Linked DNA regions of Homo sapiens: region 2 is linked to region 1. Evidence: fine-mapped QTL for protein levels in blood plasma. Region 1 holds a variant in brackets. A gene starts in the other region. All regions are shown on one strand. Distances are from middle to middle.

Region 1 (11,304 bases):
ATATGCCAACAACGACAAGGTGGGTCCGCAGGCGGCCTTCAGGGGCTCCTCTCAGGGCTTGGCTGTGCCGGCTCTGTGCCGGACGCCCGGGGTACCTGGAGAGACCTGGGTGGGCCCTGGGGATTACAGCCTGGAGGCGACACATCTCCGGCAAAGGAGCACGCTGAGTGAAGAACCGCAGTTCTGGCAAACAGGACTGATAAAGTAGGGGTGAGGTGGGGTGACTCAGGCCGGGGGAGCAACCAGAGGCCGTGGGGAGTCGGGGTAAAGTTAGGATGGGGAGGAGGCCTGTGTGATGAGCAGAGCAGGTGGGAGAGGCGAGCAGAGCAGGTGGGGGAGGCGAGCAGAGCTTCGAGGCTGCTTGTGGTGGACTTCCTGGCGGGACTGCTGAAGCCTGTGGGGAGACTTGTGTCACCTCCAGGTTGGAATGTGACAACCTGTAAACTGTGGGGTCGCACATGTTTCTGAAACACATGCAGCAACCATGTGACCAGGGCGGGAACGCCCAGCTTGTTGGGGAGCAGCTGACTTCTGGGTACACAGTCAGGACCCGGGTCGGGCTGGGGCGGCACTGGGCTGGGGGCCGGCCCAGTTAGCTCTAGGTCCCCAGTCTGACAGCAGTGGTTCTGTGATGGAGCCTCCGGGGGGGAGGTGAGGGCAGTTGCCTGGGCCCCCCTTGGTATGTAAGAGAAAGCAGCAGTACTCATGGAGGCTCTGTTGCACCCTCAGCTCTCCAAGAGGCTGAAGAAAGTGTGGAAGCCACAGCTGTTTGAGCGAGAGTTCTACAGTGAGATCCTGGACAAGAAGTTCACAGTGACTGTGACCATGCGGACCCTGGACCTCATCGATGAGGCTTATGGGCTCGACTTTTACATCCTCAAGGCAAGCGGGGTGGGGCGAGTCAGTGCACACAGGGTCTGGGATGGGCCAGTCAGACTCACGGGAGCCCCAGGTCAGCATCACACCGGGGCACGCTGACATCTGCACAGGAGGGTCACTGGGAAAGCGTGAGTGGGGCCATGCCCCTTTCTGGCCAGCACCAGTGGGGTTTCCTGCCTTCAGGAGAGGCTGTCGCTCTGTGGGTGGCTGACTTGCCCGTGGGGCCTGAGCGAGCACAGCCGCCCCTTTCCCTGCACTTGGACTTGCTTCTGTGCTGATCCCACCCCCCAGGCTGGGGTGCTGAGGCGGCCCCACCCGGGCCTTCTCTGTCCTGTCCTGGGACCACCAGCGGCTAGAGAGGAGCCAGGTGGGTTGGCTGGAAGGGTAGGTGGGGCCCTGCCACCAGCACCTGGCCCCATGTGAGCCTTCTGCCAGACCCCGAAGGAGGACCTGTGCTCCAAGTTTGGGATGGACCTGAAGCGAGGGATGCTGCTGCGGCTTGCCCGGCAGGACCCCCAGCTGCACCCCGAGGACCCCGAGCGGCGGGCAGCCATCTACGACAAGTACAAGGTGAGGGTTTCCGTCCCGCTCCCTACACCTGGGGACTCGTGGCCCGGCCCTGGGCCTCACTGCCCTTTCCATCTCTGCCTGCCTAGGAATTTGCCATCCCAGAGGAGGAGGCAGAGTGGGTGGGCCTCACGCTGGAGGAGGCCATTGAGAAGCAGAGACTTTTGGAGGAGAAGGTGAGTGTGTGAGCACCAGCCGATGCTGCCTGCCCAGAGCCTGGTGTTCAGGGTCTGGGAGTGTGCTGCCTTGGAGAGAGCCTGCACAAGGGGCTGGTGCACTGGGTGGGCTTGGGGAAGAGCTGCTGCTCTGCATTGCCCACCCAGAGGAGCATGGCCCGCTCCCTCCCCTCCAAGTCCCCACCCTGTTCTGTCCCAGGACCCTCAGTAGGAGGAGTGGGTTCCTGCACTGAGGGTTTGCTCGGCCACCAGCATCCCAGGGTCTGGAGCCTGAGGTAGCTGTCAGGACAGGGAGCCCCTGATGGCATGGCAGCTGGCTGCCCCTATTCCCTCTGTTTATCCATGACCACAGGGATGGGACAGGGGTATGTGTGTGCCTCCGGCATCCCCAAGGGAGGGGGTTCCTCATCTCACCGACAGGACTCTGCCCTCCAGGGCCTCTCATGCCCCGGTTCCTCTGGGCGGCAGCTGCTGATCCCATCCCCGTCGGAACTCCAGCTGCCCTGGGCTTCCCTGGCCTCACCATGAGCCCCTCTCTCCTTCAGGACCCTGTACCCCTGTTCAAGATCTATGTGGCGGAGCTGATCCAGCAGCTGCAGCAGCAGGCACTGTCAGAGCCGGCGGTGGTGCAGAAGAGAGCCAGTGGCCAGTGACCACACAGCTCCTCCATGCCTGACCAACAGGCCCAGCTTTCCCTGCCAGGCCCTTTGCACTGAGGACACAGATCCCGGGGAGCTGTGAGGGCCACCGGTGGGCAGTGGGTGGATCCTGGTTTCGTGTGCTGCCCATGCACCTTCCAGCCCGGGGCCAGCTTGGCAGGGATCCCCAGGAGGCCTGGGCCGCCCAGAGGCTCCTCTCAGGCTGGGCCCCGACGTTTGCGGCAGTGTTCCTTGTGCCCGTGGGGCCGGGAGCGAGTAAAGTCTGGGCCAGGCTGTGTGTGTGTATCTTTGCTTTGAGGACTGGTGTTCTCTTTGGGGATCCTGATCCTGTCACCCCTGCCCTTGCTGCCCCTGAGACCTCGGATGAGCCGTGGGCATTGACTCTGGCTGTGCCCGTCCCCCGGTGAGCTGCAGAGAGCGAGGTTCAATTCTGTGTTTTGTGTTTTTTTTTCTTTTCTTTTTTTGAGACGGAGTCTTGCTCAGTCACCCAGGCTGGAGTGCAGTGGCACGATCTGGACTCACTACAACCTCCACCTCCAGAGTTCAAGTGATTGTCCTGTCTCAGCCTCCTGAGTAGCTGGGATTACAGGCACCCCGCTATCATGTATGGCTAATTGTATTTTAGTAGAGAAGGGGTTTCACCATGTTGGCCAGGCTGGGCTTGAACTCCTGACCTCAGGTGACCCACCTGCCTCAACCTGCCAAAGTGTTGGGATTACAGGCGTGAGCCACCTCCCCTGGCCGTATTCTGTGTCTTTCTTTCCTCTGGTAGAGGGTCTGGTGTAGCTGGGGGCATCCAGGGGTGCAGCCGGATGATGCCCATTCCCTCTCCATTGCACATTCCTGCCCTTCTCGAACATTCTTCAGAGCAGGGCAAGGGAGGCTGTGGTCTGGCTCTGCAGGTACTGGAAGGAACCAGGAGGGGCAGGCCCTCAGAGGGCCGTGCTGGTGCAGCTGCCTGAGTCAGGAGCCTCTCCCTGGTCAGCACTGTTGTGGCGAGTGGTAGAGGAGGTGGGGGCGACACGAACTTGGGGACCTGCGACCTTGGTGTCCCCTCCTGCTACCTCCACCTGACCTGCAGGGTGGAGGTTTGGCCAGCGGGAAGCCGGGCTGTGCACCCTAAGGCATTTCCCGCCCTGAGGTTTTGGGGGTACCTGACCCTCTCCCCCAACCCTTACCTGGAAATCCTGATCCTCCGGACCCATTCGGTTTTCCCAGGGAGCACAGAGGGAGGGCTCCCCCAGCTGCATGTGCAGAATGACAAGGGGGGGTTTATGTCCCCTGAGCCTAAGCCAGCCCCAGCTGGTGGCAGGATGGGGTGAACTGGAGGCAGCTGCCTGACGTGGGCCTGCTGGCTGATTGAGGGGCCCCTGGCTCCCAAGGGGGCTGTGGCAGAGTCCAGAGGGAGTCTGCAGTTGGCCCTGCTGGACTGCAGGGGAGCACGTGGCTCCCGGGGCCGCAAGGGGTCCCTGGGGTCAGGACCTGCCTGGTTCAGAGCCCTGGGAGGGCCCCCGAGGTCTCTTTCCACACCGGGCACCTCTGCCGACATGTCCTGCTGCTCCCCACACCAGTGCCTTCATGTGATGCCCCTGCTCTGTGAACGACCTTGAAAAAAATTTTAGGCCAGGCACGGTGGCTCACACCTGTAATCCGAGCACTTTGGGAGGCCGAGGCGGGTGGATCACGAGGTCAGGAGATAGAGACCATCCTGGCCAACACGGTGAAACCCCATCTCTACTAAAAATACAAAAAATTAGCTAGGCATGTTGACACATGCCTGTGATCTCAGCTACACGGGAGGCTGAGGGAGGAGAATCGCTTGAACCTGGAAGGCAGAGCTTGCAGTGAGCTGAGATTGCACCACTGTACTCCAGCTTGGGTGACAGAGCGAGACTCTGTCTCAAAAAGAAAAAAAAAAAGGCCGGGCGCAGTGGCTCACGCCTGTAATCCCAGCATTTTGGGAGGCCGAGGCGGGCGGATCACGAGGTCAGGAAATCGAGACCTAACACGGTGAAACCCCATCTCTACTAAAAATACAAAAAAGTTAGCTGGGCATGGTGGCAGGTGCCTGTAGTCCCAGCTACTCGGGAGGCTGAGGCAGGAGAATGGCATGAACCCGGGAGGTGGAGGTTACAGTGAGTGGAGATCGCACCACTGCACTCTAGCCTGGGCGACAGAGCGAGACACCGTCTCAAAAAAATAAATAAAAATCATACCGGGCACTGTGGCTTACACCTATAATCCCAGCACTTTGGGAGGCTGAGGCAGGCAGATCACCTGAGGTTAGCAGTTCAAGACTAGTCTGGACAACATAGTGAAACCCCCATCTCTACTAAATACAAAAATTTAGC[C/T]GGGTGTGGTGGCGCACACCTGTAATCCCAGCTACTTGGGAGGCTGAAGCAGGCGAATTGCTTGAACCCGGGAGGTGGAGGTTGCAGTGAGCCACGATTGCACCATTGCACTCCACCTGGGCAACAAGAGCAAAACTCTGTCTCAAAAAAAAAACACTTTATGAAAAACAGACAGTGCTCAGTCAGCTCTGTGGGGCCATGAGGCTCAGCCCAGCTGCCCACAGCATGAGTGCTGTTCCGTGCCCCAGCTCTAGCCAGAGTTGGGATGTTGTGGCCACGCCCTGCCCTGCACAGTTCCCGTGTTCAGCTGTGAACTTAAGCCAAGCCCCCTCCAGCCCCTCGGCCTGCCCCTGACTCCCTGATGGTGTGTGTGTCCAGCACCTCCCAACTCAGGCCTCGGTGGCTGCCCCTCACTCACCACCTGCTCTTTCCCACCCCAACCAAGCCCCACGGTAAGCAGGGCTCCTGCCAAGGCCTGTAGGGCTTCCTGGGTCAGACTCTGGGGGCCCCAAGAAGTTAGGGGCCAGGCTTGGCAATGGGCTGGTAGGCGCTGGCCTCGGTCCCCCTGTCGGCCATGGTGGCACGTGCTTATCAGTGTGTCCTGACTTGTGTTGACTCAGGGTTGTGGGTTTGGGACCAGGCTACCAGCTGGCCAGTGGGAGAAGCTGCATTTGGCCTCAGCAGGTTACCTCCTCTGCCAGTCACCTCGATGGAACCCATGGCTGTTTAGTCCTCCCGCAGGGGAGGCCAGGCCAGACTGAGGTGGGGTCTGGGTGTGGCCAGGGCCCTGACAACTTTCTGGTCAGAGGCCACAAAAGTCCTTGACTGAGAAAAAGGTAAGAGGCCTTCCGTAAATGCCGGACCCATCCCTCAAGACCAAACCGTGACTCAGGTCTGGGACAGACCCAGCAGCTGGATCCAGCATGCTATTCTGCCTTCTGGGTTGTGGGGAGGGGTCCCAGGGACTGTACCGGCTCCAACATGTGTGTGGGGAACTGAGAACTGAGCTGGGAGCCCGGGCAGCCAACCTGGGAATGGCTGCTGGCCACCCCTCCCCGCCCTCCCCGCCCTCCCCACGCCCACCCCGCCCTCCCCGCGCCCACCCCACCCCTTCCCTGCCCTCCCTATGCCCACCCCACCCCTTCCAGAGCCAGGCCGGGCTGGGGCCACCAGACCCTCCTTCTGCCATCCTCACCAATCACACCTGTCAGGCTCCTTCCTGAAGTGTTGGACTCCGTCTCTGAGAACGGCCAGTTCTCCCTCACTGAGGCGTGCAGACCCTCAGGCACCTGGAGTGGGAGAGGGATCTGTGCAGAGCAAGATCAACCCCACAGGAGGCAGAGCTGCCCTGGGCCGGCCTGCACCAGCCCCAGCCTCTCGGAGCCCTCAGGGGCCAGGAGTTCCCCACGCGTGTCCCAGGCTTGGCAGAGGCCATGTGTTTCCATGACAACAGTCAGCCGCGGTGTCGGGCAGAGAATGGGCTGTGGACCTGAGGGTGGACTCCGGGGTGGACCCTCACGGCTATGGGCAGGGATCCCTTGGGGGTAGAAAACTGGAGGACTGGAAGGGGTGTCAGTGACCCCATCACTCCACATAGAGACGGGGAAGCCAAGGCCAGGAAGGGTAGGGTGGAGTGGATGTGAGGCTGGCCTGAGGCACCCAGTCACAAGTCCATGTCTGACCCCTGACCCCAAGGGTCTCGCCTGCTTCCTGAGTCCTGCTCAGGTGCACAGAGCAGCAGGATAGTGGAGGGAAGGGCATGGAGAGCGGGCGGGCCCTCTGGGTCGCTTGGCAACTCTGCTCCTGTCCTGTGCCCCCGTCAGGGTGCTGGGAGCCCAAGGGAGCTGCCGGGAGACCACTGTGTGTCCCGCGGGCCTGCTTAGGGCTCCGCCTCCACCTTCAGTCCTTGGCCGCCCTCGCCCTCTCACCAGTGCCCGTCTGTAACTCCAGCCCTCTGCTGGCCCCAGGCACGGGCTGGATTGTGTGGGGCTCCCAGGCTCCCTTGAGTCCCTGTCCCTCTGACACCCACCAGCCACCCAAGCTGGAACCCTGGCCACATGGCCACACCCAGCAGCCTGGGCTCCCGTGCGGTCCTGGCTCCCTCTGCCGCAGCGCCCCGCAGCCCTCCCTAGGCGGGCTCCAGCCTTGGACCATCCTCCCTAACCACTGCCTGCTGTCCTGGGATGGTGTCCCTACCCACATCCTGTCCCCAGACAAGCTGGTAGCTCTGAGCATGGCATGGGAAGGGCTTCAAGGCCGGGTTCCATCCTGGGACAGGCGGCTCACAACCAGGCCAGTGCGAAGAAGCTTGGATCCGGACCCAGAGTCCTGGGGGAGCAGCCGCGGCCCGAGACCCCCGGCGCCCAGAGTCCTGGGGGAGCAGCCGCGGCCCGAGACCCCCGGCGCCCAGAGTCCTGGGGGAGCAGCCGCGGCCCGAGACCCCCGGCGCCCAGAGTCCTGGGGGAGCAGCCGCGGCCCGAGACCCCCGGCGCCCAGGCCCATGCCAAGCCCGGTTCCCTGGGACTGGCCCCGAAGTCGCTCTCTTGAAGGTGGATCCCCATGGACCATGCTCCAGGCTCCCCTGGATCCCGGGTCCCTCTGATGGCCTTGGTAGTGGCCTCCCTGGGCTGCAGCAGCCCAAGGCTCTCGCTTGCTCCTTGCAGTCCTGCAGCTGTTCATCACCAGATTCTGCTCATCGGGTGCTGGGCCTGGGCCAGGAAGTGGGACTCAGCTTCCCGGGCTTAGGGGAAGCCTTCGAAGGGGTCTTGGCCAGGCAGTGCTGCTGTCAGAGCGCGTGGACAAGCCAACACTGTTTCTGGCTGTCACGGGGCTGGGGGCAGGGGGTGGTTCCGGGGATGCTCAGTGCCCTGCAGTGCCCAGGATGTCCACGGGTGACGGTTGAGAAGCCTCGTCTCCAGACATACGGGAAAGCTTTGCCAGGGGCCAATGCTGGTGCGCCCTGGAGGGAAGAGGCGTTCTTGGGACGCAAGAGGGCACTGCAGCCCAGGGGAGAGCGGGTGCAGCCGCAGGTGTGTGACTGATGGCGAGACGGTCTCCTCAGTGTGGCCAAAGACCCAGAGTCCTGCCCAGTGGGAACCCAAGGTCCAGGGAGCAAGGCCTCGGGAGGGGCCTCAGGGGGCTTGTGAGACGGGACTGTGTGAGCACGTGCACGTATTCCACAGGCCGCAGCTAACGAGAGGGTGGCGGAGTGGACTGTGGGCGGAGAGAAAGCTGGCAGCCTTTGCCGTCTGAGGTGGGCGAGAGCTTGGCTCTGCCCAGTGGGGCTGGGAAGTTCTCCCTGCTCCCGCTTCCACTGCTCCCACCCTTTATTTTCCCACCAGACTGGGCCTGGCCTTCAGCCCCTGAGGCAAGCCTGACCTGAAGTCCTCCTCTCAGCAGGGGCTGCAAGGCCAGTGCTTCTGCCTCTGCTGGGGGTAAGGCAGGGCACAGAGTGGCCCCGGACAGGCCAGGAGAGGGGCAAGGACCCCACACACTGGACATGAATGAAACACACGGAAACGCTTAACAGCTGTTGTGGGGACAGCTACCATGCAGCCATGCCCACCTCGTTCCTCCAAGGGGACCCTGGCATGGGCCCACGGGCAGTGCCGCCTGCTCCCTCAGCAGTCAGGAGTGGCTCGGGGGTGGCGGTGTCTAAAGGGGCTGGTTGCCATGGCTACCATAGGGTTCTGAGGCCCGTCATCTGGTCCCTGCCTCAGCCAATCGGCGGCAGGAGCCCGAGCTGCAGCCCAGAGTCACGCTTCTGCCTCCCAGCCACACAGTGGCCAAGAGCAGGGACCTGCTTCCCAGAGTGGCTGAAAGTGCTCGGACGGACGGCCAAGCCCATCATGGCGGACAGCGGGACGGTGGGGCGTGAGCAGGCACACGGAGCCAGGCAGGTGAGGTAAGCCGGGCAGGCGGCCGGGCGGACAGGTGGACGCGCCTCCTCTGCCCATTGTTCTCGCGGCTGCGGCCCTGCCCTCGGCCCACCCCACCCTCGAGTGCAAGCCCACACGCAGCGCCCGCACCCTCACCCTCAGACCCTCTCCGGGTGTCCCGAGGAAGGGTCAGGGGAAGAGACAAAGGGAGCAGGGTGAGGCAGGATGAATCCTGACGGACCTCGGACCCCAAAACCGCCCCGGTGGGTCTTCCACGTCAGGTTTCACATGGAGGCGGCATCAAAGACCCCCGACTGATCCAGGCCGGCGTCCCGGCCGCCACTCCAAGGTTAGGAGACAAGCCATGTCAAGTCGGTGCCGTTTAAGCAGCATTTTTTCGAGGAGAAAAAAAAAAAAGAAACAGAAGCGATATAAAGAAAAAAAATGTCCACCTATGACACGGGAAGCGGCCAGCCCGATGGATCAGAAGCGCCAAATCCCATTACTCGGGACTTCAGGGACAGGCCCTGCAAGGGCAGCTGCGATTAAGAGCTTGTCAATGGACTCTCCTTTAGAGATCAAAGCGGGGCGTGCTTGTGTGTGTGTGCGTGTGCACGTGTGTGCGCGTGCACGCGTGTACGTGCAGGAGCGGACACTGTGGGGTGACAGCACAGAGGTCGTGCACCGCAGCACCACGGGGCCCATACGTCGCCGACGCGGCCACCTCCACACTGCTTGCGTCCTTGCTGCCGTGTGCGACGTGTGTGGACGCGGCTGGGGGCCTGGGCCGGGTACCTGGTCCCAACACCTGCACCCTTTCAAAGGCCTCCACCTCCTGCTAGAGGCCGTGCCTTCCCCAGGTTCTGCCCAGAGGAGCCCGCAGGGGCCGAGCTGGGTGTGAGGACAGCCGTGGCTGCGTCTCCTCCCCCCGACCACGTCCTGCTGCCCACAGAGGCCTTGAGCTCTCAGTTGGCCTGGCAGGCGCGCCCTGGGGGTTCAAAGCTCCCGTTGACACGATTGTTAGGTTATTAGGTAAACTCTGAGACGTAAATCTTTTAATCCACTGTGGCTAATCCGGTTCACTTTTGTTTGCCACGACAGACGCCGCGGCGACAAAGGGGCCTGGGGCCCAGCACACACAGTCACACGCTCAGAACTTGGCCGCGGCCTCAGGGTTCCTAGGCAGTGGAGAGAGACATCTTGGGACAGCCAAGCAGAGGGAGGCGGCGGAGGGCACAGGTGGGCGGGGGCGCAGGTGGGCCGGGGCAAAGGCAGCTGCCCGCTGGGGGCCGCACTTCCTCACCTCCCATTTAATGTCCCCTTGCCAGCTCGAGGGGGAACCGCTGGGCACTGGGGTGTGCAGGTATCGGGGCCGCTGGGGATAGTGGGCAGAAGGACAGATGAGCACCAACGGGGGGGCGGCAGCGCCCGGAGAGGCGTGTGGGATGGAGGCCGTCAGGGCAGGGAAGGGCGTTCAGGTGAGGGAACAGCAGGGACAAGGACTGTGGTCGGTGTGGCAGGGGCAGGAGTCCCCCCAACAAGGACAGGAAGCGGCCTGAGGCTGCCCAGGGAGGTGGGACGTCACCTGCTACTTCCCGAAGTCAGCGCGAGGCCCCTCGGGGCATGGCCCCTGCACTTGGATGCCACCTCTTTTTGGGAAAACAGCACTGAGGTTGGGGGAGGCCAGCAGGCCCTGCCCTGTGCTCACAATGTGCCTGGGACACCAGACCTGGTCCATGGCCAGCCGTGGGCTCCATCCCGCCACCCGGCCTGTCAGAGAGGGTCACACACGGACCTCTGGGGCTGTGAGGCCAGGTCAGGACGATCACTTTGCCCAGGGGGACACTGGCACAAGGAGGTGCCTGCTTTGCCTAGGGCTACAGGCTGGCCCAAGACAAGGATGGGCACTCAGGTCTCCTGGGAGGCAGGTGCCAGGCCAGGCCCAACAGTCCCCTGATGTCAGCAGCTCCCGAGTTGGGAAGTGGTGGCCGCCCTCCCCTCCTACTTCCCCAGCCCCTGCGGCCGGACCCTCCAGGCAGGCCTACTTGACCACATCCTGGTATCCACCTGGCCCCAGTCCCAGCCCCTGGACACCCTGGGGTCAGAACTCTTCAGAAAGGCAGTGCAGGAGGACTCCCCTCAGGACACTGGGAGGTGTGGACAGTACCCTGGGATGGAGGGGACCGCCTCTGGGCCGCCTGGCTGGCCAGGCCCCCGCCCTGTTGCCAGTGCTTTCCTGTTGGCCTTGGCGTCCTGACCCTTGACCCCTGGAGGCCAGCGGGGATGTGGGGACTGTCAGGTCTGCTGGACGGGGCTGGGCGCAGGCGACGTGGGTGACGGCAGGTCTGGGGCCTGCCCCAGGGGACAAGTATGGACCCGGAGCCAGCGGGGACCAAGCACTGTGGCCACAGCAGCCGTTTCATTTCTTTTTCTTTTTTTTTTTTTTTTTTGAGATGGAGTCTCACTCTGTTGCCCAGGCTGGAGTGCCTTGGCACAATCTTGGCTCACTGCAACCTCTGTCTCCTGGGTTCAAGTGATTCTCCTGCCCCAACCTCCCCAGTAGCCGAGATTACAGGGGCCTGCCACCATACCTGGCTAATTTTTTGCATTTTTAGTAGAGATGGGGTTTCACCACGTTGGCCAGGCTGGTCTCGAGCTCCTGACCTGAGGTGATACGCCCACCTTGGCCTCCCAAAGTGCTAAAATTACAGGCGTGAACCACTGTGCCTGGCCTAATTTTTGTATTTTTAGTAGAGACGGGGTTTCACCATGTTGGCCAGGCTGGTCTCGAACT
Region 2 (11,304 bases), 31 Mb before region 1:
GAGGCGGGCAGATCATGAGGTCAGGAGTTCAAGACGAGCCTGGCCAACATGGTGAAACCCCTCTACTAAAAATACAAAAATTAGCCAGGGGTGGTGGCAGGCGCCTGTAACCCCAGCTACGTGGGAGGCTGAGGCAGGAGAATCGCTTGAACCCAGGGAGGGCAGAGGTTGCAGTGAGCCAAGATTGCGCCACTGCACTCCAGTCGGAGCGACAGAGCAAGACTCTGTCTGGGGTGGGGCATGAGGGAAGAATCTTACAGCACTGGGAGATGTTTTGACCTAGAAGGGAGATTTGGAAGGAGGGATGATGAAGGAGTGAGTGGCATGACCCCAGAGAGTCATCCTTCCCCTGGGCTGGGAAGGACTTTGCCAGCAATGGGAGGAGCAGAAGGTGACATTGGACCTTGTTCCAACAGGCCAGGCTCTACAACAGTGCCTTACATTGAAGTGTATCTGGGCCGGGCAGGGGCCAGCTCCCTCCCACAGGGCCACCAGGTATCCCGCTTGGTCATCAGCATCCGGCTGCCCCAGCACCTGGGACTCAGGCCCCCCCTGGCCCTCCTGGAGCTGAGCTCCCGGGTGGAGCCCTCCCCATCAGCCCTGCCCATCTGTCTCCACCCGGCGGGTATCCCCCCGGGGGCCAGCTGCTGGGTGTTGGGCTGGAAAGAACCCCAGGACCGAGGTGAGACCCCTGGGTCACGGGAACGAGGAGTAGCTGGAGGCCAGAGCCCTGGAACAACTTTGTCTCCTCTCCCCAGTCCCTGTGGCTGCTGCTGTCTCCATCTTGACACAACGAATCTGTGACTGCCTCTATCAGGGCATCCTGCCCCCTGGAACCCTCTGTGTCCTGTATGCAGAGGGGCAGGAGAACAGGTGTGAGGTACAGGGGCCTGGGCGTCCTGGAGTAGGCAGGGGAGAGGCAGTGTTGGACTACTGTACCCTAGAGAGATAGCAGAATTGGAATTTTTTTTTTTTTTTTTTTTTGAGACAGAGTCTCACTCTGTCCCCCAGCTGGAGTGCAGTGGCGCGATCTCGGCTCACTGCAAGCTCCACCTCCCTGGTTCATGCCATTCTCCTGCCTCAGCCTCCCGAGTAGCTGGGACTACAGGCACCCGCTACTACGCCCGGCTAATTTTTTGTATTTTTAGTAGAGACGGGGTTTCACTGTGTGAGCCAGGATGGTCTTGATCTGATCTCGTGATCCGCCGGCCTCGGCCTCCCAAAGTGCTGGGATTAGAGGTGTGAGCCACTGCGCCCGGCCAAGGAATTTTTTTTTTTTTTTTTTTTTTTTTTTGAGACTGAGTCTCGCTCTGGTACCCAGGCTGGAGTGCAGTGGTGTGATCTTGGCTCACTGCAACCTCCACCTCCCAGGTTCAAGAGATTCTCCTGCCTCAGCCTCCCTAGTAGCTGGGATTACAAGCATGCACCACCACACCTGGTTAATTTTTGTATTTTTAGTAGAGACAGGGTTTCACCATGTTGGCCAAGCTGGACTCAAACTCCTCACCTCAAATGATCCGCCCACCTTGGCTTCCCAAAGGGTTGGGATTAGAGGTGTGAGCCACTGCACCTGGCCAGGATTGGAATTATTGGGTATTTGGCCCCAAATGGGACCCTAGCTGGACCCGGGAGAGAAACCAGGGACCTGGATGTCTAGGGATGCAGACCAGAGTGCTTCGTGGCCAGACCCTGGGGAAAGGGGGAGGGGACCAAGAGGAAGGGCAGCAGACCCACGTGGCCTCGCTCCAACTCTGCAGATGACCTCAGCACCGCCCCTCCTGTGCCAGATGACGGAAGGGTCCTGGATCCTCGTGGGCATGGCTGTTCAAGGGAGCCGGGAGCTGTTTGCTGCCATTGGTCCTGAAGAGGCCTGGATCTCCCAGACAGTGGGAGAGGCCAACTTCCTGCCCCCCAGTGGCTCCCCACACTGGCCCACTGGAGGCAGCAATCTCTGCCCCCCAGAACTGGCCAAGGCCTCGGGATCCCCGCATGCAGTCTACTTCCTGCTCCTGCTGACTCTCCTGATCCAGAGCTGAGGGGCTAGGGTCCCAGCACCACTTCCCCCTTCTCCACCCTCTACTTCCCGCCCAGTGGGGCTGGAATGTGGCCCAGCCGGCTGGAACCTCAAGGGCCCCACCCACCGAGATTGCAGCGGCTCTGGCTAATTGGGCCTCAGTGCCCGGGCTATTTTGAACCCAGGAATCCTTGGGGGTGGTGGGAGGAGCGGACAATAAAGGTGTAAACACAGGTACCTGTGTGGCCTTGTGGCATCGCCGTGGGCAGGCTGAGGGGCTGGGCATCAGAGGCTAAGCGGGAAGCCCAAGGGGGAGGTCCCCTCCCTCCTCCCTCCTCCGGCCTCTGAGTCAGGCCTTGGGCTCTCAGGAAATGTACCCTGATAACCTGGCAGCGATTCCTTCATTCCTGTCCCAGGGCAGGGAAGTCGGGTGGCCAGCTGGCTGTGTGTCACCTGCCCAGTGGAGTCAGCACCCTCGGCACGTGCTGGACATCTCATCCCCTGCTCAGACCCGCTGCCCTCGCTGCCCGCCATAGACACACCTCAATGCACAATGCTCCGATGTATCCCCTGCACACACACAACACTTGGGCCCTTCAAGGGTCTGCCACTTTCACATTCTGCCCAGAACTTGGGTCCCTTATATGTGAACCTCACTCCCTTACCCACTGCTTACCTGCACCTCCCTGCATTCATTCAACCCGTGTTCCCTGGTGGCTACTAAGTCGTGGCACAATTGGGGTCTGATATATAAGCCCACAAAGTCCTCCCAATCTAGTGGGGACACATGTGGACATCCCTGGCTGGGATTGGGAAGATGTCATAGCAGTGATGTTTGAGCACAGAAAAAGGGAAGGTGGTTTCCAGCCAATGAATCTACAATTAAAAAGTAACGCAAAACCAGAGACGAGGTGCGGCAGCTCATGCCTGTAATCCCAGCACTTTGGGAGGATCGCTTGAGGCCAGGCATTCCAGACCAGCCCGGGCAACAAAGCAAGACCCCCATCTCCACTTTTTTTTTTTTGAGACAGAGTCTCATACTGATGCTCAGGCTGGAGTGCAGTGGTGCAATCTCGGCTCACTGCAACCTCCACCTCCTGGGTTCAAGCGATCCTCCTGCCTCAGACTCAAGTAACTAGGATTGCAGACTCAAGACACCATGCCGGACTAATTTTTGTATTTTTATTTAACTTATTTATTTTTAATTTTTTGAGACAGAGTTTTGCTATTGTCGCCCACACTGGAGTTCAATGGCGCAATCTCGGCTCACTACAACCTTCACCTCCCAGGTTCAAGCAATTCTCCTGCCTCAGCCTCCTGAGAAGCTGGGATTACAGGTGCCCACCACCATGCCCAACTAATTTTTGTATTTTTAGTAGAGGTGGGGTGTCTCTATGTTGGCCAGGCTGGTCTTGAACTCCTGACCTCAGATGATCCGCCCACCTCAGCCTCCCAAAGTGCTGGGATTTACAGGCGTGAGCCACTGCATCTGGCCTATTTATTTTATTTATTTATTTATTTTGAGATGGAGTCTCCCTCTGTTGCCCAGGCTGGAGTGCAGTGGCACAATCTTGGCTTCCCAGGTTCAAGCAATTCTCCTGCCTCAGCCTCCCGAGTAGCTAAGATTACAGGTATGCGCCACCACGCCTGGCTAATTTTCTTTGTATTTTTTAGGAGAGACGGGGTTTTACCATGTTGGCCAAGCTGGTCTCAAACTCCTGATCTTGAGAATGATCCTCCCACCTTGGCCTCACAAAGTGCTGGGATTATAGGTGTGAGCCACCACATCCAAGCTCCACAATTTTTTTTGTTTGTTTGTTTTTTGAGACGGAGTCTCGCTCTGTCGCTCAGGCTGGAGTGCAATGGCGCAATATCTCGGCTCACTGCAACCTCCACCTCCTGGGTTCAAGCGATTCTCCTGCCTCAGCCTCCTGAGTAGCTGGAATTACAGGTGCGTGCTACCACGCCTGGCTAATTTTTGTATTTTTAGTAGAAATGGGGTTTCACCATGTTGTTCAGGATGGTCTCAAACTCCTGACCTCGTGATTCGTGTGCCTTGGCCTCCCAAAGTGCCGAGATTAGAGGCGTGAGCCACCACACCCAGCCTCAACAGGTGTTTTGAACGGCCAGAGTGGCCCTCAAGGAGGATACATGCCTCACTCCCACCGCAGCCACACGGCAAGCCTTCTTTCCCTGAGCCTCTGCCCTCTGCACCCCATCCCCCCATCTTCGCCTTACCACCTTTTATAATCCCTTTCGGTCTCAGTTTCCAAGGCAATTCCTCGAGGACCCTTTCACAATGCCAGCCTTTGCCAGGCTGTGGTGTGCTCACGCCATTCTTTTTCATCACTATTCCTAGCTTGAAATTATTGTGTAATTGCAATTTTTTTTTTTAAGACAGGGTCTCCCTCTGTTGCCCAGGCTGGAGTGCAGTGGCGTGATCATAGCTCAATGCTTCGTTGAACTCCTGGGCTCAAGCAATCCTCCTGCCTCAGCCTCCCAAATAGCTGGAACCATAGGCATGCGCCACAATGCCTGCCTAATTTTTATATTTCTTTGTAGAGATGAGGCCTCGCTATATTCCCCAGGCTGGTCTGGAACTCCTGGCTTCAAGTGATGCTCCAGCCTCAGCCTCCCAAAGCCGACTAGCCACCTTGCCAGCCTGTTTGTGATTATTTGATTGAAGTGTGTCACCCCTACTTCACCATGAGCTCAGGGCTCAAGGGGGACGGGGCTGGTGCCTGTTTTGTCCTGGACACCTGGGAACATCATAGGCACTTAGGAAATGTCTGTGGGATGATTGGTGCTGCTCCACAAGCTCGCCACCACCCATGAGGTGCAGGCATCGCAGAAAGGGCCTGGCAGGGGACAGACCATAGTGTCTTAAGCTCCCATAACCAGCCTAAGGAGGGAGGGAAGAAGGGAGGAGTGGCTGTGGCTCCAGATAATAAAAGCTGGGGCCAGGCCCTGGGGGGCATAACTGGCCTGAGATAACCTGAAAGACCTGAGGCGGAGGAGAGTCGTCACATTCCAGGGAGACTGCACACACACACAAACCACATGCACGTGCATGCACGCACACTCAGACACACACACTACACACACAGGGACACACACAGCCTACACATGTGCACATACAGCCTGTACATGCACACACACACACATACCACACCACATAAGAGGACACACACAGCCTACACAGGCATACACACACACCACATACACACTACACACCGGGACACACACACAAAAGGCCTATGCATGTGCACACACATACACACGGACACATACATGCACACACACGGGCCTGCAGCTCTGAAAGGACTCATGACTTTGGTGGCAAGAGGAGCTGGCGGAGCCCAGCCAGTGGGCGGGGCCAGGGGAGGGGCGGGCAGGTAGGTGCAGCCACTCCTGGGAGGACCCTGCGTGGCCAGACGGTGCTGGTGACTCGTCCACACTGCTCGCTTCGGATACTCCAGGCGTCTCCCGTTGCGGCCGCTCCCTGCCTTAGAGGCCAGCCTTGGACACTTGCTGCCCCTTTCCAGCCCGGATTCTGGGATCCTTCCCTCTGAGCCAACATCTGGGTCCTGCCTTCGACACCACCCCAAGGCTTCCTACCTTGCGTGCCTGGAGTCTGCCCCAGGGGCCCTTGTCCTGGGCCATGGCCCAGAAGGGGGTCCTGGGGCCTGGGCAGCTGGGGGCTGTGGCCATTCTGCTCTATCTTGGATTACTCCGGTCGGGGACAGGTAAGTGAGGACGTGGGGGCAGGGTGGGGACAATGCACTGGAGGGAGCCGGCGTGATCATTTTCTGGGGTGTGCCCTTGTCTGGGGCCCAAGAAAACCCCCGGCCTCCCTAGCTCTTGGCCTCTCTTTCCCACCTTGGCTCTGTCAGGGAAGGGGCCAGCCCTCTGGAGCAGTGGTGGGTACTAAGGGGTCAGGGAACCCGAGTCTTCCCTACTCACCCCTCCTCTTTCTCTTTCTTTCTAGGAGCGGAAGGGGCAGAAGGTGAGACTTTCCTCGGAGAGGGAGGAGGGGAGGGGGAGGTGACTTGGATCGGATTCCCCTGGGGTTTAACCAGTGCCTGGCCTTCAGCTGGGCTGCCTTCCAACTAGATTCTCTTAGGGCTCCCAGAGTGGGGGGTTTTAGCCCTCACCTTATGGGCAGAGAAGCAGGGACTTGCCCAGGGCACACTGCCAGTGAAGGTGCAGCTGGGATTCAGATCCACGTCTGACTCCCAAAGTGGGGCAATCGAGGTGGTTTTTTTGGTTTGGTTTTTGTCTTTTGAAACAGGGTCTGGGTCTGTCGTCACCCAGGCTGGAGTGCAGTGGCCCGATCGCAGCTCACTGCAGTCTCAGTGATCCAGCCTCCCGGGCTCACGTGATCCTCCCACCTCCCCACCTCAGCCTCCCTAGTGGCTGGGACTACAGGTGCATGCCATCACACCCAGCTAGTTGTGTTTTGTTTTTGTTTTTGTTTTTGTTTGGTAGAGATGTGGGTCTCACTATGTTGGCCGGGCAGGTCTTGAACTCCTGGGCTCAAGCGATCCTCCTGCCTTGGCCTCTCAAAGTGCTGGGATTACAGGTGTGAGCCACCGTTCCCATCCTGGAGGTGGTTTTGAGGGAACCAAACCAAGGGTCTCCTTTCTTGGAAGGCACCCAACCCAGCTCTGAGTCAGACCGGCTTTCAATCCTGGCTTCCCCATGCACTGGCTGTGTGTCATTGGCCAAGTCCCCCCACTTCTCTAAGCCTTAGACTCCTCACCTCTAAAATGAAGCTGGTCATGTCCGTCTCCTGGGGCTGTGGAGAGGATGCAGGGAGATGAGGAAGCGAAAGCCCCTCCAGGGCCTGGCACAGCCGCTAGGCTCTCTAAATAGTGGCTATTGTCATGATGATAAGGGAGAGAAAGATCTGGTCTGCAATTTTCTCTGCTCCTAGATGACTTTGTGAAGAGCAGTTGGGCTCCACTCCAAAGTGGCCTCAATGGGGGTGGGGCTGGGGCTGTCCTGGAAACTAGACATTCACATCACAGGAGCCCAGTTCTGCTGTTGGTTTGTTGAATATATGTCCACGACGCCACAGGCACTGCAGACATGAGAATCTGCCCCTAGGGAATGCCCAGATTGGTGTGGTGGAAACAGACACAGTTGTGGACTCCGGAACAATTGTGAGACTGGGCAGCATCGGGGAGCATGGTGGAGGTTGGGGGGTGCTGGGCTCGGAGGCAATGCCCAACTCAGCCAGCAGAAGCCCGCCTGTCTACGGAGGGGCTGCTGTTCCAATCAAGCATCCACAGGCAAAGGGAAGTTTGCCAGACAGTAAGGATGGGGAAGGGCATACCAGGTAGAGTGACCTGGATCAGCCAAGGTCCCGGGTAAACAAGTGTGTGGCCTGATGTACACAACTGAAGGGTCCAGAGGGGACGGCTGGGTCCGATGGCGGTGCCATGGTCTGTCTGGAATGTATCTTAAGGACCGCGTGGAGCCAAGAAGGGTTTAAGCAGGGCTGTGGCCTGGTCAGATTGGGGGTTTATGAAAATCTTCAGACTTGTAAGGGGCGGGATGGATGGAAGGCTTGCAAGGAGAGAAGCTGCCATGAGACCTGAATTAGGTAATGGGTAGTGGACAGAAGGGGCACAACTGCCCATGCCTGGGAGGGGACAAAGGGGTGTTGACTCCTGTGAACCCACTTCCCAAGCTCTATATCAGAGCTCCTGGGCTGCATAGGAGTGGCCAGGCTAACAACCTGACCCCTTCCCTTCCTCCCTGGGCAGCTCCCTGCGGTGTGGCCCCCCAAGCACGCATCACAGGTGGCAGCAGTGCAGTCGCCGGTCAGTGGCCCTGGCAGGTCAGCATCACCTATGAAGGCGTCCATGTGTGTGGTGGCTCTCTCGTGTCTGAGCAGTGGGTGCTGTCAGCTGCTCACTGCTTCCCCAGGTACCAAATGGTGAAAGTCAAAAGTGGGCTGGAGGTCAAAGTTAATGGGTCAATCCAGGTCAGAGGTTGGGGTTCTTGGGTTGGGTCTGAGAGTGTCAGTTCTAAGTCTGGAAGGACCAGTTAGGAGTGAAGGTGAGGGGTCAGAGGTTACATGATAAAACTAAGGTGCAATTTGAGACCTAAAAGGGGCTGATCGGAATCAGGGGTTGGCAGTGGGGGTTGGGGAACAAGGAGAGGTCTCCTGGGTCTCAGCCTTTGCCCCCTGCCTGCAGCGAGCACCACAAGGAAGCCTATGAGGTCAAGCTGGGGGCCCACCAGCTAGACTCCTACTCCGAGGACGCCAAGGTCAGCACCCTGAAGGACATCATCCCCCACCCCAGCTACCTCCAGGAGGGCTCCCAGGGCGACATTGCACTCCTCCAACTCAGCAGACCCATCACCTTCTCCCGCTACATCCGGCCCATCTGCCTCCCTGCAGCCAACGCCTCCTTCCCCAACGGCCTCCACTGCACTGTCACTGGCTGGGGTCATGTGGCCCCCTCAGGTGAGGTGGGACGCTGGGTGCCTAGAGGTGTGGAGGGGCACCTGACTTGGGGAGGGGCCCAGGGTAAGCCTCTTTTACCCCCACAGTGAGCCTCCTGACGCCCAAGCCACTGCAGCAACTCGAGGTGCCTCTGATCAGTCGTGAGACGTGTAACTGCCTGTACAACATCGACGCCAAGCCTGAGGAGCCGCACTTTGTCCAAGAGGACATGGTGTGTGCTGGCTATGTGGAGGGGGGCAAGGACGCCTGCCAGGTAAGCACAGGCCCGGGGGGCAGATGACCAGTGCAACTTCGGAAAGGAGGCCTGGCCCGGTCCTGATGGCTGCTGTGTGGCTTCTCTCCTCAGGGTGACTCTGGGGGCCCACTCTCCTGCCCTGTGGAGGGTCTCTGGTACCTGACGGGCATTGTGAGCTGGGGAGATGCCTGTGGGGCCCGCAACAGGCCTGGTGTGTACACTCTGGCCTCCAGCTATGCCTCCTGGATCCAAAGCAAGGTGACAGAACTCCAGCCTCGTGTGGTGCCCCAAACCCAGGAGTCCCAGCCCGACAGCAACCTCTGTGGCAGCCACCTGGCCTTCAGCTCTGCCCCAGCCCAGGGCTTGCTGAGGCCCATCCTTTTCCTGCCTCTGGGCCTGGCTCTGGGCCTCCTCTCCCCATGGCTCAGCGAGCACTGAGCTGGCCCTACTTCCAGGATGGATGCATCACACTCAAGGACAGGAGCCTGGTCCTTCCCTGATGGCCTTTGGACCCAGGGCCTGACTTGAGCCACTCCTTCCTTCAGGACTCTGCGGGAGGCTGGGGCCCCATCTTGATCTTTGAGCCCATTCTTCTGGGTGTGCTTTTTGGGACCATCACTGAGAGTCAGGAGTTTTACTGCCTGTAGCAATGGCCAGAGCCTCTGGCCCCTCACCCACCATGGACCAGCCCATTGGCCGAGCTCCTGGGGAGCTCCTGGGACCCTTGGCTATGAAAATGAGCCCTGGCTCCCACCTGTTTCTGGAAGACTGCTCCCGGCCCGCCTGCCCAGACTGATGAGCACATCTCTCTGCCCTCTCCCTGTGTTCTGGGCTGGGGCCACCTTTGTGCAGCTTCGAGGACAGGAAAGGCCCCAATCTTGCCCACTGGCCGCTGAGCGCCCCCGAGCCCTGACTCCTGGACTCCGGAGGACTGAGCCCCCACCGGAACTGGGCTGGCGCTTGGATCTGGGGTGGGAGTAACAGGGCAGAAATGATTAAAATGTTTGAGCACAACTTGCCGTGCATGTGTGAAGTGAAATGAAGAACATCCGCTCTTGGCCTCCCCTTCCCCTCCAAAGTCCAGGGCCACCAGAACTGACTTTATTAAAAAAATGACAAAACAGGTCTATACATATTTACAGGCTGGGAGCCAGGAGGCTCAGGTCCGACAGCAGGGGCCAGGCTGCTCACTTCTTGGAGAGCTTGACTTGCTTGTGCTTGGGGGGTGCCCACTTGAGGCAGACGGAGTCCACTGTGGGGAGAAGGGGCGGGAGGCAGGGCTGGGCCTGGGCCAGGCCAGCTCACACCTGGCTGCCCTCCTCTGGGCTCAGGCCAGTTTCACCTCCTCCAGGTGAGAACAAAAGGGCAGGCTGTGCTGGGGAGGGGTAGGGAAGCCCAGGAATGAGAGGCCTGCCCCGGGCTCCATCCTGGGAGCTGGTCTGACTGGTTTGGGATCATGTGACAGCAATAAGGAGGCCTTGACTCCTACCAGTCCATATACTGACACTCCCCCACCGCCCCCGACACACAGCAGCCCCCCACCCACCTGTGATGGGTGGTTTCTTATACTGGGCACTTTTGAGGTGCTCCTCCACCAGCTTGGGTGTGACACAGATCACGTGCTGGCCCTTCCAGTACTTGACCATATTGAGGGATTGCAGGGTACTGATGATGTCATTTTGGGTGATACTGGTCATCTGGCTGCAAAAAGGGATGAGAGCAAATGCCAGACCTGGTGCCCTTGTGGGATCTGGCCAGGATGGTGACAGGGTATGAGGAAGCAGGATCGTGGCCCATCTCAGGGCAAGTCCTGCCCCCAGGGCCCGGGAGGCCCCCTCACCTGAGGTCCTTGATGGACAGTGTGCCCCGGAAGTCCCGCAGGATCTCTAGCAGCACCCAGGACCAGTAGCTGCGGTAGCTGAGCTTGCCCAGGTCAGACAGTGGCTTCTCCGGGGAGCCGACTGTGCTCTCCAGCTTGGAGAGCTCATAACCTGGCAGCAGTAGAAAGAGGAACTTAGGATCCAGCCTGCCCTGGCACCCCTGCCCCACAGGTCTCCCCCTCCCAGACAGGCCAGGAACCACTCACTGAAAGCGATGAGGAACTTCCCGTAGCCGCGGCGTTGGTAGGGGGGCAAGGTCAGGATGCAGGCCACATTGTTTCCATCCGGGGACTCCTTCTCCTGCAGGAGGCAGGTGCTCAGGGCCGCTGGGGAGGCTCTGCCCCACTCTCTGTTCATGCCCACCTTCGCCCTCCCCACCCTCCCCACCCCGAGTTTCCAGACCCAGCACCTTGGAGAAGTAGCCAACAATGTGGGCCCCCTGCCGGTCCACCTCAGTCAGGATGTAAAAGACGAACGGCTCCACGTCAAAGTACAGTGTCTTATGGTCCAGGAAAAGCTTGGCCAGCAGACACAGGTTCTGACAGTAAATCTAGGGTTGAGGAGGGGGGAGACAGGCTCAGGGGGCAGGCACAGGCCCCACCCAGCTGGTTCCAGCGGCCGGCACCAGCCCACGCGAAGTGGGCGCCTCGCCAGGCCAGAAGGATTTCACACTGGAAGGAGTCTTCGGTCAGCCTCT

Alleles and levels. Positions count from the first base shown, and alleles are read on the strand shown. Strength reflects both the effect of a copy and how common the allele is.
In carriers of allele T in region 1, the plasma level of the protein whose gene starts at base 5,447 in region 2 tends to be lower than with C alone (moderate association).

The links. A credible set is the group of variants that fine-mapping cannot tell apart. PIP is the chance, under the fine-mapping model, that this variant and not a neighbour inherited with it causes the effect. The UK Biobank Pharma Proteomics Project read protein levels with antibody pairs (Olink). The fine-mapping took linkage between variants from a reference panel, not from the people measured, so its PIPs are less certain.
Region 2: it holds the start of PRSS8, and the variant in region 1 is the best candidate, but not a certain one, in a credible set for the plasma level of the PRSS8 protein (UK Biobank, PIP 0.60).

Annotation. Positions count from the first base shown.
Region 1 is chr16:358,646-369,949 of GRCh38, reverse strand. MRPL28 (mitochondrial ribosomal protein L28) reads left to right here. Exons shown (of 6, transcript NM_006428.5): 2 at 1-19; 3 at 730-882; 4 at 1,315-1,449; 5 at 1,536-1,622; 6 at 2,168-2,981. The coding sequence ends at 2,275. Among named protein-coding and RNA genes, the nearest start is that of MRPL28, 6.2 kb to the left of the region's middle. RefSeq lists enhancers at 5,230-5,736, 5,737-6,243, 6,244-6,751, 7,380-8,227, 8,228-9,076. The variant C/T (reference allele first, on the strand shown) is at 4,633.
Region 2 is chr16:31,129,870-31,141,173 of GRCh38, reverse strand. It overlaps PRSS8 (serine protease 8), which reads left to right and starts at 5,447. Exons shown (of 6, transcript NM_002773.5): 1 at 5,447-5,760; 2 at 6,003-6,020; 3 at 7,786-7,948; 4 at 8,221-8,492; 5 at 8,579-8,745; 6 at 8,839-9,741. The coding sequence starts at 5,676. The coding sequence ends at 9,165. It overlaps KAT8 (lysine acetyltransferase 8), which reads right to left. Exons shown (of 11, transcript NM_032188.3): 7 at 11,017-11,157; 8 at 10,814-10,907; 9 at 10,568-10,718; 10 at 10,274-10,428; 11 at 9,815-9,979. The coding sequence ends at 9,915. It overlaps PRSS36 (serine protease 36), which reads left to right. Exons shown (of 15, transcript NM_173502.5): 13 at 417-682; 14 at 759-880; 15 at 1,758-2,248. The coding sequence ends at 2,036. RefSeq lists enhancers at 1-494, 1,312-2,004, 2,005-2,698, 6,386-7,332, 8,281-9,226 and 3 more.